Regions from separate parts of the Homo sapiens genome. Here regions 2 and 3 are each reported to be linked to region 1. The links are microRNA targets in miRTarBase. Many come from high-throughput screens and were not tested one by one. Region 1 holds a microRNA gene; each other region holds the end of a gene's coding sequence.
Evidence for each region. The annotated mature microRNA hsa-miR-193a-5p reads UGGGUCUUUGCGGGCGAGAUGA and lies in region 1 at 1,938-1,959, shown strand. An mRNA with a match to its seed (bases 2 to 7 or 8) in the 3' UTR can be bound and repressed. Matches are read on the target gene's strand: a 7mer-m8 pairs with bases 2 to 8, a 7mer-A1 pairs with bases 2 to 7 and ends in A, and an 8mer does both.

Region 1 (4,105 bases):
TATGTTCCCAGGCTGGTCTCAAACTCCTGGGCTCAAGCAATCCTGCCTTGGCCTCCCAAAGTGCTGGGATTACAGGTGTGCGCCACCGTGCCCAGCCTCATAGTGAGATTTAAAGGCATGATCTGGGTTGGTGAGGCCAGGAAAGAGAAGGCAGGAACATAGCTAATATCTATGTCGGGACACAAACAGATATGTCACGTTATTTTCTTTAAATGGCTCCAAATCTCGACCTGAAGAGGTTGGGAAACTCAACCTCAGTGGTTATTTGGGCTTCCCCATCACCCACGGTGCCTGGAATCCTGGCCATCTTGAGGCTGGGGATCTTGGTAGAGGCCTGGTTCAGGTCCCAGAGGAGACACGCAGTTACTCTCCCACATCCTGGCGTCTCCGGAGAGACAGTGGGGCAGCAGGTCTCCACCAAGGGGATTCCACTGACCTCCCACCCCTCGCTAATCTTGGGACAGCTCTTACTCAGCCTCAAAGCTTTTCTGTCCCACTCCTTTTCCACAGTCTCCCTAAAGGAACTCAGCTTTTCAAACAGCACAGCCAGGAAGAGAGGTTGTCTGCAGGCCGCTGGAACTGGGAGTTGAAAGCACGAAATTTTAACATCTCAAGAAAGTATGCTGCCCGGTACTATGCTTGGCACTTTAATTTATAATCTTTGCCACCAAAGCCCTGCCAGAAGTGCCCGGCGGCTCCAGGTTCTAGATGGGGAAGTTGAGGCCGGCGGCAGGCGCGCTCCACCGGGCGGGGGCGCGGCCCGGGAGCGGAGCGGCCGGCAGGGGGCTCCCCGCGCCGGTCTCCGCGGGAGGAAGCGCTGGCAGCTGCTCGGACGGGTCAAAGGAGGAAAAGGGAAAATTACTGGGCTCCGGGGCGGGAAGGACTGCGTGACTGGGAGGAAGGCACTCCAGACTGTCGAGTAGGGCCGCCCGCGTCGGGACCCCATCCCCGGGGCAGTGCGGGCCACCCGGGACCTGGGAACCCGGGCCACCCCCCACCGCCGTCAGGGTCTCTCCCGCCGGTGCCGCAGGCTGGAGCGGGCGTCGCGGCCGGGGGCGGTGCCGCCTAGGGGCGGGCGAAGGGCGGGCCGGGGCGGGGCGCCGTCCGCTCGGCTCCGGGAGGCGGTGCGGGCGGGCGCTGGCCGCGTCCGCCCGCCGGGAGCCGCGGGGCGCGCAGCCTTCCTGATGTGTCACCAGCACGTGGAGCCAGGTCGGGCCGCGGCGAGCAAGCCGACCCCCCCAACTTTCGAGGGGTCTCGCCGCCCCGCTCCTCTCCCGGCTTCGTCGGGCTCGCTCTCCTAGCGGAGGGGGCGGCGGCGGCCCCCAGGTCCCGGGCAGGTCGAGCGAGGCCACGGCCCCCGGCCAGGAGTTCGAGGGGCTCCCGGAACGTCGGGGCGCGGGCCCCGGCTAGCGGCTATGGCCCCCGTGCCCAGGCAGCGGTGCGGGCTCGGCCTTGCGGGAGGGTGCGGCCTGCTGCGAGAGGTCGGCCACGGCTCCTGCCCCGCGCCCCGCGCCCCTCGCCCGCCGAGCTGAGCGCAGGTAACCGAGGCAGAGCGGAGCTGGGCCTCGCAGGCGCGGCGTGGGAGCGTGGCGAAGTTTCTCGGCGCATAACTCTTGCGCCCCACTCGGGAGTGGGGCTGCGGTGGGGAGGCTTTGGTCCCCGCACCTCCCCCTCCCCCAGCGCTGTCCCTCGGCCTGAGCCGAGGCGGCCCGGGGGTGGCGTGGAGGCCGCCGAGCGTCGTGTAACCCTTGGAGGGCTGGGTTTGGAGCCCGCGACCCGAGGTCGGGCGGGGCGGTGGACTTTCCCGGGGAACGCCGCCTGAGGGACACCCAGAGCTTCGGCGGAGCGGAGCGCGGTGCACAGAGCCGGCGACCGGACCCAGCCCCGGGAAGCCCGTCGGGGACGCACCCCGAACTCCGAGGATGGGAGCTGAGGGCTGGGTCTTTGCGGGCGAGATGAGGGTGTCGGATCAACTGGCCTACAAAGTCCCAGTTCTCGGCCCCCGGGACCAGCGTCTTCTCCCCGGTCCTCGCCCCAGGCCGGCTTCCTCCCGGGCTGGCGTGCGCTCCGGCCAGGCTGCCTCTCAGGTCCACGCTGGAGAAGGAGTGGTGAGGTGCGCTCGCCCCGGCTGCGTGCGGTGATTCGGGAAATCCCCGCACTTCGCTGGAGAAATAGCGACGCTCTCGGAAGTGTGAGTCGGTCACTGCTTGGGGTCCGTACCCTTTGGGCAGACGTGGACCGCGCCCCGGCGACCTGGGTTGAGTGGACAGACGGGACCCGGCTTACCCATGGGCCAAGCCCTGCCACTTACCGAGGCCTGCCCTGCTGTGCTTTCCAGGGCGGCAACCTTGAGCTTGGGGGTGGGGAGAACGGGGCCTGACTTCTAGAATTGCCCCTGGGGAGGTGGGAAGCGGAGGTTTGGCCCGGTGGCGCAGGAAGCCCCTGTTCCTCTCCCAAACACCATTTCATTAAAGATGGATCTTTGTGGATGTGTTCCCAATGGCCGGTCTTTTGTTCCCTGACCGATGCAACATAATGTGGACCCACTCTAGTCCTCTTCAAGTTTTTTGCTGGAATTCCTTAAACTCTCCTTTAAAGTCTCTTATCTATTCCTCTAGTGCGTTTGCTTCTACTCCCCGAAAACAAAAACCCACCAACCCCTGAAACCTCGGGTTTGCCTGGTGTTGGAACTTTGGTTATTTGTCCTTTGTTTGTGTTGTGTTTTTGGCTCTTGGCCGTGGAAAAACATCTGGGGACATGCAGTGAGGTGACTTGAACTGTGTGAAGAACTGGTTGACAAAATAGGGAACGTCTGGTCCCTGTCTTACTTGGCTTTGGAAAACAGGAGAGGTTTTTAGGAGCTGGGAGGAGGGAGGGTGAGAGGGAGGAACCATCACGGCCAGGTTGGCCCACCCCTTGCCAGGTCGTGTAAAAACCCATTCAAGAGGCATTTTCCCACAGGCTCCCTGCCTCTGCAGGCCACGTGTAGAGTAGTCCTTTGCAGGCGTCCTGCCCATACTGTTGTCCCTGTTTTGGGGGCATGTGGGAGCCAACACAGGGGAGTCAGGTGTGTGGTAGGCAGTCAGGTGTGTTTTGGGGTCAGGGAGGCAGGTTTGGGCCTGGGAGGCCAGGAAGGGACATACCCCGTCCTGCAGTTGGCCTGACTTTTGTCCATGTTAGCTTTGTCCTGGAGGCTTACCCAGTGGAACATGCAGATGTCAGAATTATGGGAGAAAAGAGTTTGGCCATGGGGTAGATTTCTGAACATCTTGACAAATTCTTAGTTTGGAGACAAAATTGTCTAGGAGTGGAACTGATGGGAGCTTCAACTGGAGACCTCGCCCCTAATTAAGAAAAATGCTCTTTGGAGCGCTGAATCAGCTTGGGAAAACAAAGTTCTCCCTTTGAACCAATGCCTCTCCCAGCCCTGGGGATCAGTGTCTAAAAGTAAATGAAGTGGAAATCTCCAGAATATTGCGTGGTCATAAAACATCCCAGAAGTGGGCTGGAGCAATGAGATGCCGAAAAGCAGGCCTGGCTGGCTGCCCTGCACCCACCCTGGAGGGGACCGGCTGGGGAAGGTGGACTCACAGGGCTGGGAATGAGGCCTGAGGAGCACTGTGGTGCCCCCGGCAGTTTCCCTCAGGCTGTGCCCCATTCTTTCTGGGTCTGGCCAGGGCTTTAGAGATTTTTAGGAAATGACTTGGTGCTTCGTTTCTTTGGGGGAAGTGAGTGATTAGGTTTTTCCTTCTTGGGTTTTTTTCCTTTGCAAAATGTGATTGAATCAGCTATGCAGTAGGCTGGGCTAGCCTGGCCTCCTGCAACTGATTTATGCTTCCGTGTAAGCCGTTGTATTGAGGAATTGTGTTGTAGTGGAGAGCTTTTTGATTTTGCTCTCTCTTGAATTCATAGTTTCCTGGAGCAGAGGCCTCCTTCCTGGCTCCTACCCCCACCCCCAGTCCCTCTTTCAAAGATGGGTACCTCAAGGTTTCAAGGGGAAGTAGCTTGAACATAGACTGATTTACCCTGGAGCCTTCTTCAGGAAGCAGCTAAATGCAAGGTAGAAAGCTGGTAGGAGGGGGAGGGTTTTAGCGAGACCTGCAGG
Region 2 (4,105 bases), not on the chromosome of region 1:
CCTGCTCCACTGCCCCCTGCCCCTAATGCGCCGGCCTCTCGCAGGACCTGGGGGCCCTGAAGATCCCCGAGCAGTACCGCATGACCATCTGGCGGGGCCTGCAGGACCTGAAGCAGGGCCACGACTACAGCACCGCGCAGCAGCTGCTCCGCTCTAGCAACGCGGCCACCATCTCCATCGGCGGCTCAGGGGAACTGCAGCGCCAGCGGGTCATGGAGGCCGTGCACTTCCGCGTGCGCCACACCATCACCATCCCCAACCGCGGCGGCCCAGGCGGCGGCCCTGACGAGTGGGCGGACTTCGGCTTCGACCTGCCCGACTGCAAGGCCCGCAAGCAGCCCATCAAGGAGGAGTTCACGGAGGCCGAGATCCACTGAGGGCCTCGCCTGGCTGCAGCCTGCGCCACCGCCCAGAGACCCAAGCTGCCTCCCCTCTCCTTCCTGTGTGTCCAAAACTGCCTCAGGAGGCAGGACCTTCGGGCTGTGCCCGGGGAAAGGCAAGGTCCGGCCCATCCCCAGGCACCTCACAGGCCCCAGGAAAGGCCCAGCCACCGAAGCCGCCTGTGGACAGCCTGAGTCACCTGCAGAACCTTCTGGAGCTGCCCTAGTGCTGGGCTTGTGGGGCGGGGGCTGGCCCACTCTCAGCCCTGCCACTGCCCCGGCGTGCTCCATGGCAGGCGTGGGTGGGGACCGCAGCGTCGGCTCCGACTTCCAGGCTTCATCCTAGAGACTGTCATCTCCCAACCAGGCGAGGTCCTTCCAAAGGAAAGGATCCTCTTTGCTGATGGACTGCCAAAAAGTATTTTGCGACATCTTTTGGTTCTGGATAGTAGTGAGCAGCCAAGTGACTGTGTCTGAAACACCAGTGTATTTTCAGGGAATGTCCCTAACTGCGTCTTGCCCGCGCCGGGGGCTGGGGACTCTCTCTGCTGGACTTGGGACTGGCCTCTGCCCCCAGCACGCTGTATTCTGCAGGACCGCCTCCTTCCTGCCCCTAACAACAACCACAGTGTTGCTGAAATTGGAGAAAACTGGGGAGGGCGCAACCCCCCCCAGGCGCGGGGAAGCATGTGGTACCGCCTCAGCCAGTGCCCCTCAGCCTGGCCACAGTCGCCTCTCCTCGGGGACCCCTCAGCAGAAAGGGACAGCCTGTCCTTAGAGGACTGGAAATTGTCAATATTTGATAAAATGATACCCTTTTCTACATGGTGGGTCAGCTTTTTTTTTTTTTTTTTTAACTTTCTTTCTCAGCATTCTCTTTGGAGTTCAACCTAGCGCCCATGAGCCAGGCTGAGGAAGCTGAGTGAGAAGCCAGGTGGGCGGGACTTGTTCCCAGGAAGGCCGGGTGGGGAGGAAGCCTAGAGGGAACCCCAGGAAGGGCAAATCCAGGCAAATCTGCAGGAATGCTCTGCCATGGGAGCAGCTCCTCCCTTGCCACGGCCACCTTCTCTAGCACTGCAAGGTCCACAGGGCATTGCTTTCCTTTCTAGGCGGTGGCAGTCAGGGAACAGACTGAGGTAGGTGTAGGGGGGTCTAGGCCTTCGTGGAGCACCCCAGGGAGTTAGTAGGCCCCGGGGAGACAGAGTCTGCACAGGCCCTTTCTGGGGCCACCTCCATCCACGAGGAGCAGCCTGAGCCTTGGTGGCCGAACCTTGACCGTCCCGGAGCACAGCTTCAGGGCAGGGAACCGGAGCCCCTGGGGGGCCTCACGGGTGTGACGAGGCCCTTCATTGCAGGCAGGTGGGCCAATGGGAGCCCTCACCCACGCAAGCCGAGACACCACCCAGAGTGCAGGCTGCCTGGCCCCTTCTGGCACGGCCAGCTCCACACCCCCTGCCTAGGGTATGTGTGGTCCTAAGGGCTAGGAGCTTCCCCTACTAACATCTCCCAGAAAAAGCAGTTAAGCCCCTCAGGGCACAGCAAGGTTAGACACAGCCCCCATCCCCAGATCAGGACTCCATCTTGCTAAGTGGCATCACCGTCACCAGCCTCCCCTTATTTAAAAGCAGCGACTGGTGTTGCCGCAGGTACCTGGTCTACGAAGACGCAGGCATCCCTCTCCCACCGTCCACCTCCCCGGGGGCCGCTGACAGCACAGTCGCCTGGGTGCACGCTTGTGGGGGCAGCAGGAACGGGGCTGTCGGCTCTCAGGGGATCTGGCTGCAGCCAGGGCGAGGGCCTGGCCCTTCCTTCCAGCTCCTTCCGGCTCCTTCCAGCTGAAGGGCAGGAAGCTCTGGCCGCTTAGCTTCTAGGGTTCCATCTCCCTAGAAAGGTGCCCACGCCCAGGGCATCAGTCAGTAGCGGCAGCAGCAGCAGACTCGGGGCTTTCCCAGGGTGGCGCAGCCACCCCAGCTGCATGTCACCTCAGCTCTCCATCTTATTGCCATTTTGTAGATGAGGAAGCTGAGACCAGAAAGGCTAAGACCCATGCCCCAGGCACCACACCCATCTCTTGGGGGCTGGGCACCTGCTACCCGAGGCCACCTCCTGAAGCCCCCACTCTTCCCCCATGTTCCACTTCAGGAGCCGCGGGGGCCCATCCTGACACCCGGGGTTCCTCAGCCCAGCGCAGATGTGCTTCAGTTCCAGAGGGCTTGTTGATTTGTTTCTTAGGTACGTTACCTGTCCACCCTGAGTCCAGTGAGGCTGTCCCAAGAGCCCCTGTAGTGTGCTCCTGGGAAGGGCTGGGGGGGCTGGGGGGGCTGGGAGAGGCCCAGGGGCAGCTGTCACTGGAACCCCAGCCAGATGTCCAAGGAAGCCGGCCAGAACACGGAGCAGCCAGATGGCCCCAGCTGCACCTGTCTAGGGAGCCCATGCAGCCTCCTTGCACTGGAGAAGCAGCTGTGAAAGTAGACAGAGTTGAGACTTCGCCGTGGTCAGGAGAAAATGCAAATTCCCAGGAACAAGAATCCTTTAAGTGATATGTTTTTATAAAACTAAACAAATCAACAAATAAATCTTGAAGGCGGATGGTTTTCCCAGCAGTGCAGGGGTTGGAGGGAGGCTGCTGGCACTCCTGGGGCCAAGGGGGACAGGCAGTGGTCCTGAGTCTGCTCAGAGAGGCAAGGCAGAAGGAGCTCGCCAGGCAGGTCAGCTCACATCTGTCCAAGTCGCTCTGGTCAGAAACAGCGACTCTCCCCCATTCCCCCAGCGTTCCCACCAGGCCTGGGCTGCTGGGAAGCCCTTGCTGTACCCAGGAGCCCGACCCGCAGTATCCTGGCACAGAGCCACTTGTCACTCAGAACAGTCAGTGTCTCCAACGCACAAACATCCACTCCTCTGTTACCAGTTAAAGCACTTTAATGCTTTAAGGTGAAAACGAAATCCCATCCGTGTTTTTCGTGTAAGATCGTGCTTCTCCGAGCAGTATTAATGGACGCCCTCCAATGACATAACAACTGTTTTTGGTAATGTAATCTTGGGAAAATGTGTTATTTTTTTAGCTGTGTTTCAGTGGGGATTTTTGTTTTTGTAACATAATAAAGTGTATGTTCCAATGACCGGTTCTCATGACTCAACCTAAATCTCCAAAGGGCTCAGACAAACAGGGCGGCTCCTCACAGGCAGGAAGCCCGTGGCCTCTGTGGCCGGCCCTGGCACCCCACTTGAGTTTCTCTGTGTCGTGAGTCTGATGGGTCCCTGGGGTGTCCCTCTGCCCTGTGCCTCGGAGGACCTGCGGGCCAAGCCGAGTAGCCTCATGGGACTGACCGGGCCTCTCAGGCCTCCTGAAGTACAGGCCCATGAGCCCTCATCCAAGCCCTGTGGGGCCCAGGCCTTCTGGACTTTAGCTAGGCCAAGCAGGGTCTCAGGGCGTCACAAACACCGACACAGAACGCACTCCCGTTTCTCAGCAAAACCTAAGAAAACAAAAGGCAGCAGAGAGCCTCATGTTGGCTCAAGCCAGGCTGAGACCAACGGGCTTCATTTCAGTTCTCTTGGTTCTCAGGTTTCTTGGTTTCAGAGTTGTGAACAGGGACTAGGGACTTGTCACAGCAAAAACAAGGCTCTAGAAATCTGTTCAACCTTGAAGGAGGCCTCAGTCTTTTTAGAAATTGGCCTAAAACAAAGATAGAAAGGACCAAGGCAAGAGGGGGAGATGCCGCCAG
Region 3 (4,105 bases), not on the chromosome of region 1:
ATCACAGACCCCCTTTGCTCTTTGACCTCTCCAGGGACCCCTCCGAGGCACGGCCCCTGACCCCCGACTCCGAGCCCCTGTACCACGCCGTGATAGCAAGGGTAGGTGCCGCGGTGTCGGAGCATCGGCAGACCCTGAGTCCTGTGCCCCAGCAGTTTTCCATGAGCAACATCCTGTGGAAGCCGTGGCTGCAGCCGTGCTGCGGACATTTCCCGTTCTGTTCATGCCACGAGGATGGGGATGGCACCCCCTGAATGCCAGGACTGTGAGAGAGGATCCAGGAGAGCCTGACTGCGTTGCAAACAAAATTCTCCAAGCTTGGTTCTATCTTCAGCTTCCCTTTTTGCAAGGAACATGCCCTGGACTGAGAGTGGGTCCCCACTTTCTTTCTTTCTTTCTTTCTTTTTTGAGACAGAGTGTCGCTCTGTCCCTCAGGCTGGAATGCAATGGCACGATCTCTGCTCACTGCAACCTCCGCCTCCCGGGTTCAAGCGATTTTCCTGCCTCAGCCTCCTGAGTACCCAGGATTACAGGCACCAGGCACCTGCCACCATGCCTAGCTAATTTTTGTAGTTTTAGTAGAGACAGGGTTTCACCATGTTGCCCAGGCTGGTCTCGCACTCCTGACCTCAAGTCATCCACCTGCCTCAGCCTCCCAAAGTGCTGGGATTACAGGCACGAGCCACTGCGCCCATGTAGGGTTTCCCTTTCCTGATTTGTGAAATAAGACTGTCCCAGTAGGCACCCACTGATGCCTCCTCTTCCTCTTCTAAATCTCAGGGTTCGTCATTGTGCCAATGCCCGATGTTTTCACCCCTCCGTCTTAAAGCATTGTTGCAATTTCATCACCTAGATGACATAACAGCCTTACAAAAGGACAGGGAGGAGTGTCTGTTCCTACTCTCACATAGCGGAGGAAAGTTAGAGCCTCTCAGTCTCTGTTTATGAGGACTCATTAATCTCAAATAATTGATGCATTTTTCATACATTAGGGTCTCTGTCCATGTGTCTTCCTGATATTGTTATAGAAATGGCTTCAGGCTGCTGGTAACAGATGCTGCGGAAAAAGAATGCCTTAAACAAAGCCAGGCACGGTGACTCACACCTGTAATCCCAGCACTTTGGGAGGCTAAGGTGGGAGGATCACTTGAGCCTAGGAGTTAGACACCTACCCAGCCTGAGCAACACAGTGAGACCTCATCTCTACAAAAAACAAATAATTAGCTAGATGTCGTGGCGCACAGCTGTAGTCTCAGCTACTTAGGAGGCTGAGGCGGGAGGATTATTTGAGCCTGGGAGGTCAAAACTGCAATGAGCTAAGATTGCACTACTGCACTCCGGGCTGGGAGACAGAGTAAGACCCTGCCTTAAAAAAAAAAAAAAAAAAATGCCTTAAAGAAAATAATAAGAGAAGGGTGTGTTCTCTTCCAAGTAATGAGCCGATCAAGGGGAAGCAACCCAAGGCTAGCAGGCTCTTTTCAATTCCCAGCTCTGCCACTCTTAGCATGGCAGAGAGTTGGCCTCATTATGCCAGTATGGCTGCCACAGTGTCAGACATCACATTCCAGGCAGTGGAAAGGAGAAAGAACCAAAGGGCATCCCTTTCTCTTGAAGCAGTCCCTGTGAGGGGGGATTATCTGGAAGCCCCAACCCAATTTCTGCTTCCAACCATTATCCATAGAAACAACTGGAAGTTGAGAAGTGCAGTCTTTTAGGTGGGCACCTGGCTGCCCTGTATGAAACCAGAATTAGGTTGGTCAGCAGGAAAACAAGAAAACACTTACTGTGTTGACTGAGGTTTTTGACGCATCGCTTTATTGTCAAATTAAACAACTCTATCTCATTCTGCACTGAAACACGTACTACCATTGCCTATAATTGGAAAATGATCCTCAGAGGCACAGAAGATGCCCTGATGGAAAGTTTGCCCCTTGGGCAAAGAGACAGCCATGGGAACCTTCAGACATAGAGAGAGAAGGTGGCTTTTCTCCCTACATTCCTCAAATAGCTAAGATTTGGCCAGTGTGTTTTCTAAGTCAATTCTAGTGTGTTTCATCCTCACCTCTTCCCTCTGTGGCTTTGATGATGGAAGTGTAGTCCTAACCTACTGCACAGCTGGGACCCCCTGCCCCTAGATCCCAATACTGGGGATGGGAGGACCTTGCACTATTCCCCTCAGTCCATCTATCGAGGTCTTTGCAGGAAGCATACTGGGAATTGAAACGAGAGCCTAAATGACATCTAAGAAAGGCAGTGTTCAATACCAGGTATTAGGTGAGGATGGGATTCTAAGGACATCAGTGGGAGGCAGGGAGCCACCTTCAGACCTCAGCATGGAAGCTTCCAAGATCCAGAGGAAGAGGCAACAGCACTGAGAGTCATAGGTAGAAGAATCATCACAGCCCTGCTAACCAGGCAGCTGATGCCCCTCTCCCCTGGCTCCCTGTGTCCAAATCCTACAGGGGCATCTGTTGGCTGAACTCAACCTGAAGCCAAAGAGAAGATGAGTGGAGAGAGGCAACATTTATAGAGCTCAGGTTTCTAGGGCTGGAGAGGGATCTGGAGGGACACACAGGAGACACCTGGCATAACCAAAAAATGATTAAAAAAAAAAAAAAAAAGAAACATCTATGGAGCATGGGACACGGGGAGTGGAGGCAGCTAAAAGCCATCTCATCTTTCACCGTATTCAACAAGCCCATTATAACAAGTCTTTCACGCTCAACCATTCAAACAATCCCAACAATCCCAGCCTAAGAATTTCCTGGCATTTGATGAAAATGGCTGTGGGTTTTGCTATCTTTAAGCTCCCTGGGAAGCAGGATATAAGCCCAGGGCTGGCAGGCTCTTTCTAGCTACCTGCTCTTGCACATAGAGTTTGCCTCATGGTTGCAAGAAGGCTGCCATAGCTCCAGATGGCACATAGACATTCCAGGCAGCAGGAAAAAGGAAGGAGCACTTAACCGAAGGAGGTCAGGGAGTTGGTTAGTCTCCACCTGAAGAAGAGAGCCATGAACCAGCTTCAGTTGACTAACGGGCTCCTGTGAGTGCATCTTTGGACTTTTCTGGAGGTTGAAATCTAGATGTGGTATGTGTCTTAAAGCAGCCACCAACTCCTCCCATTACCTTCCAAGTGAGCCCAACTACACGATGGAGCCTCTTCCCTGCCCTTGGATCTGGGCTGAGCCTCTGACTTGCGTTGACCAACAGAATGCAGTGAAAGTGATGCCGATACTACCCTCCCTGCCCTAGACTTGGGATACCTGGCAGCTATATTCTTCCATTCCTCAGGACTTGCAAAAACGGGTCTCAGCATGCCTTCCCAGAGCCATGAGGTGTTTCTTTGCCCATTCATTGATCTGAGAAGTGAGTGTAAGGAGTTTAAATCAACCTCTGTTCTGTGCTAGTTAAGGTAATAAAGTTGCTGCAGTCCAGGGGGTAGGTACCTGTGGACGGCTCTGCGAATAGGACAGTTGCATTTCTTGGGAATCAAGTGCATCCCTAGGCTGGCAGTGCAGCAGAAATACTGAATAAAATGTGACAAATCTCCCTGGATGGTGTCATTTGTTTGTTTTTATTTCCCATCCTCAATCCTACTTTTCCACCTCCACCCCTTCACCCCCCAGCTTTGAAGGAACTCACCTGGCATTGCTATTCACTATTCATGGAGAGAGGACTAAACAATCCAAACTCCCCCGTTCTGAAAAACTTAAGTCACAGTCACAAGTGTACTCCTGTGCTTTTAGGGTTATACAGGGGAGAGAGGGCGACTGGGAATAAGAACGCCTTAAACAAGAGAAAGATGTGTTCTCTCCCAGGTAATGGGGGTCACAGAGGAAGCAATCCAGGGCTGACAGGTTCTTTCCAGCTTCCTGCTCTTGCACATAGGGTTTGCCTCATGGTCACAAGATGGCTGCCATAGCTCCAGGCAGCATGTAGACATTCCAGGCAGCAAAAAGGAGGAAGGTGCAGTTAACTGAAGGATGTCAGGGAGCTGGTTAGTCTCCACCTAAAGGGGGCAGCCTTGAGCCAGCTTCAGTTGACTAACTTGGGCTGCTGTTGGTGTATCTTTGGACTTTTCTGTAGGTTGAAGTCTAGATGTGGT

Region 2: miRTarBase lists TP73 as a target of hsa-miR-193a-5p. Seed matches in the 3' UTR shown: 7mer-A1 at 414-420 and 8mer at 2,420-2,427.
Region 3: miRTarBase lists ARSD as a target of hsa-miR-193a-5p. Seed matches in the 3' UTR shown: 7mer-m8 at 1,357-1,363.

The regions. Positions count from the first base shown.
Region 1 is chr17:31,558,079-31,562,183 of GRCh38, forward strand. It overlaps MIR193A (microRNA 193a), which reads left to right and starts at 1,918; the gene lies at 1,918-2,005. RefSeq lists a silencer at 700-1,189 and an enhancer at 931-1,721.
Region 2 is chr1:3,732,703-3,736,807 of GRCh38, forward strand. TP73 (tumor protein p73) reads left to right here. Exons shown (of 14, transcript NM_005427.4): 14 at 45-3,499. The coding sequence ends at 377. It also overlaps the pseudogene GFOD3P. Among named protein-coding and RNA genes, the nearest start is that of CCDC27, 18 kb to the right of the region's middle. RefSeq lists an enhancer at 753-1,541.
Region 3 is chrX:2,903,420-2,907,524 of GRCh38, reverse strand. It overlaps ARSD (arylsulfatase D), which reads left to right. Exons shown (of 10, transcript NM_001669.4): 10 at 1-3,553. The coding sequence ends at 254. It overlaps ARSD-AS1 (ARSD antisense RNA 1), which reads right to left and starts at 2,621. Exons shown (of 2, transcript NR_144459.1): 1 at 2,320-2,621; 2 at 1,403-1,957.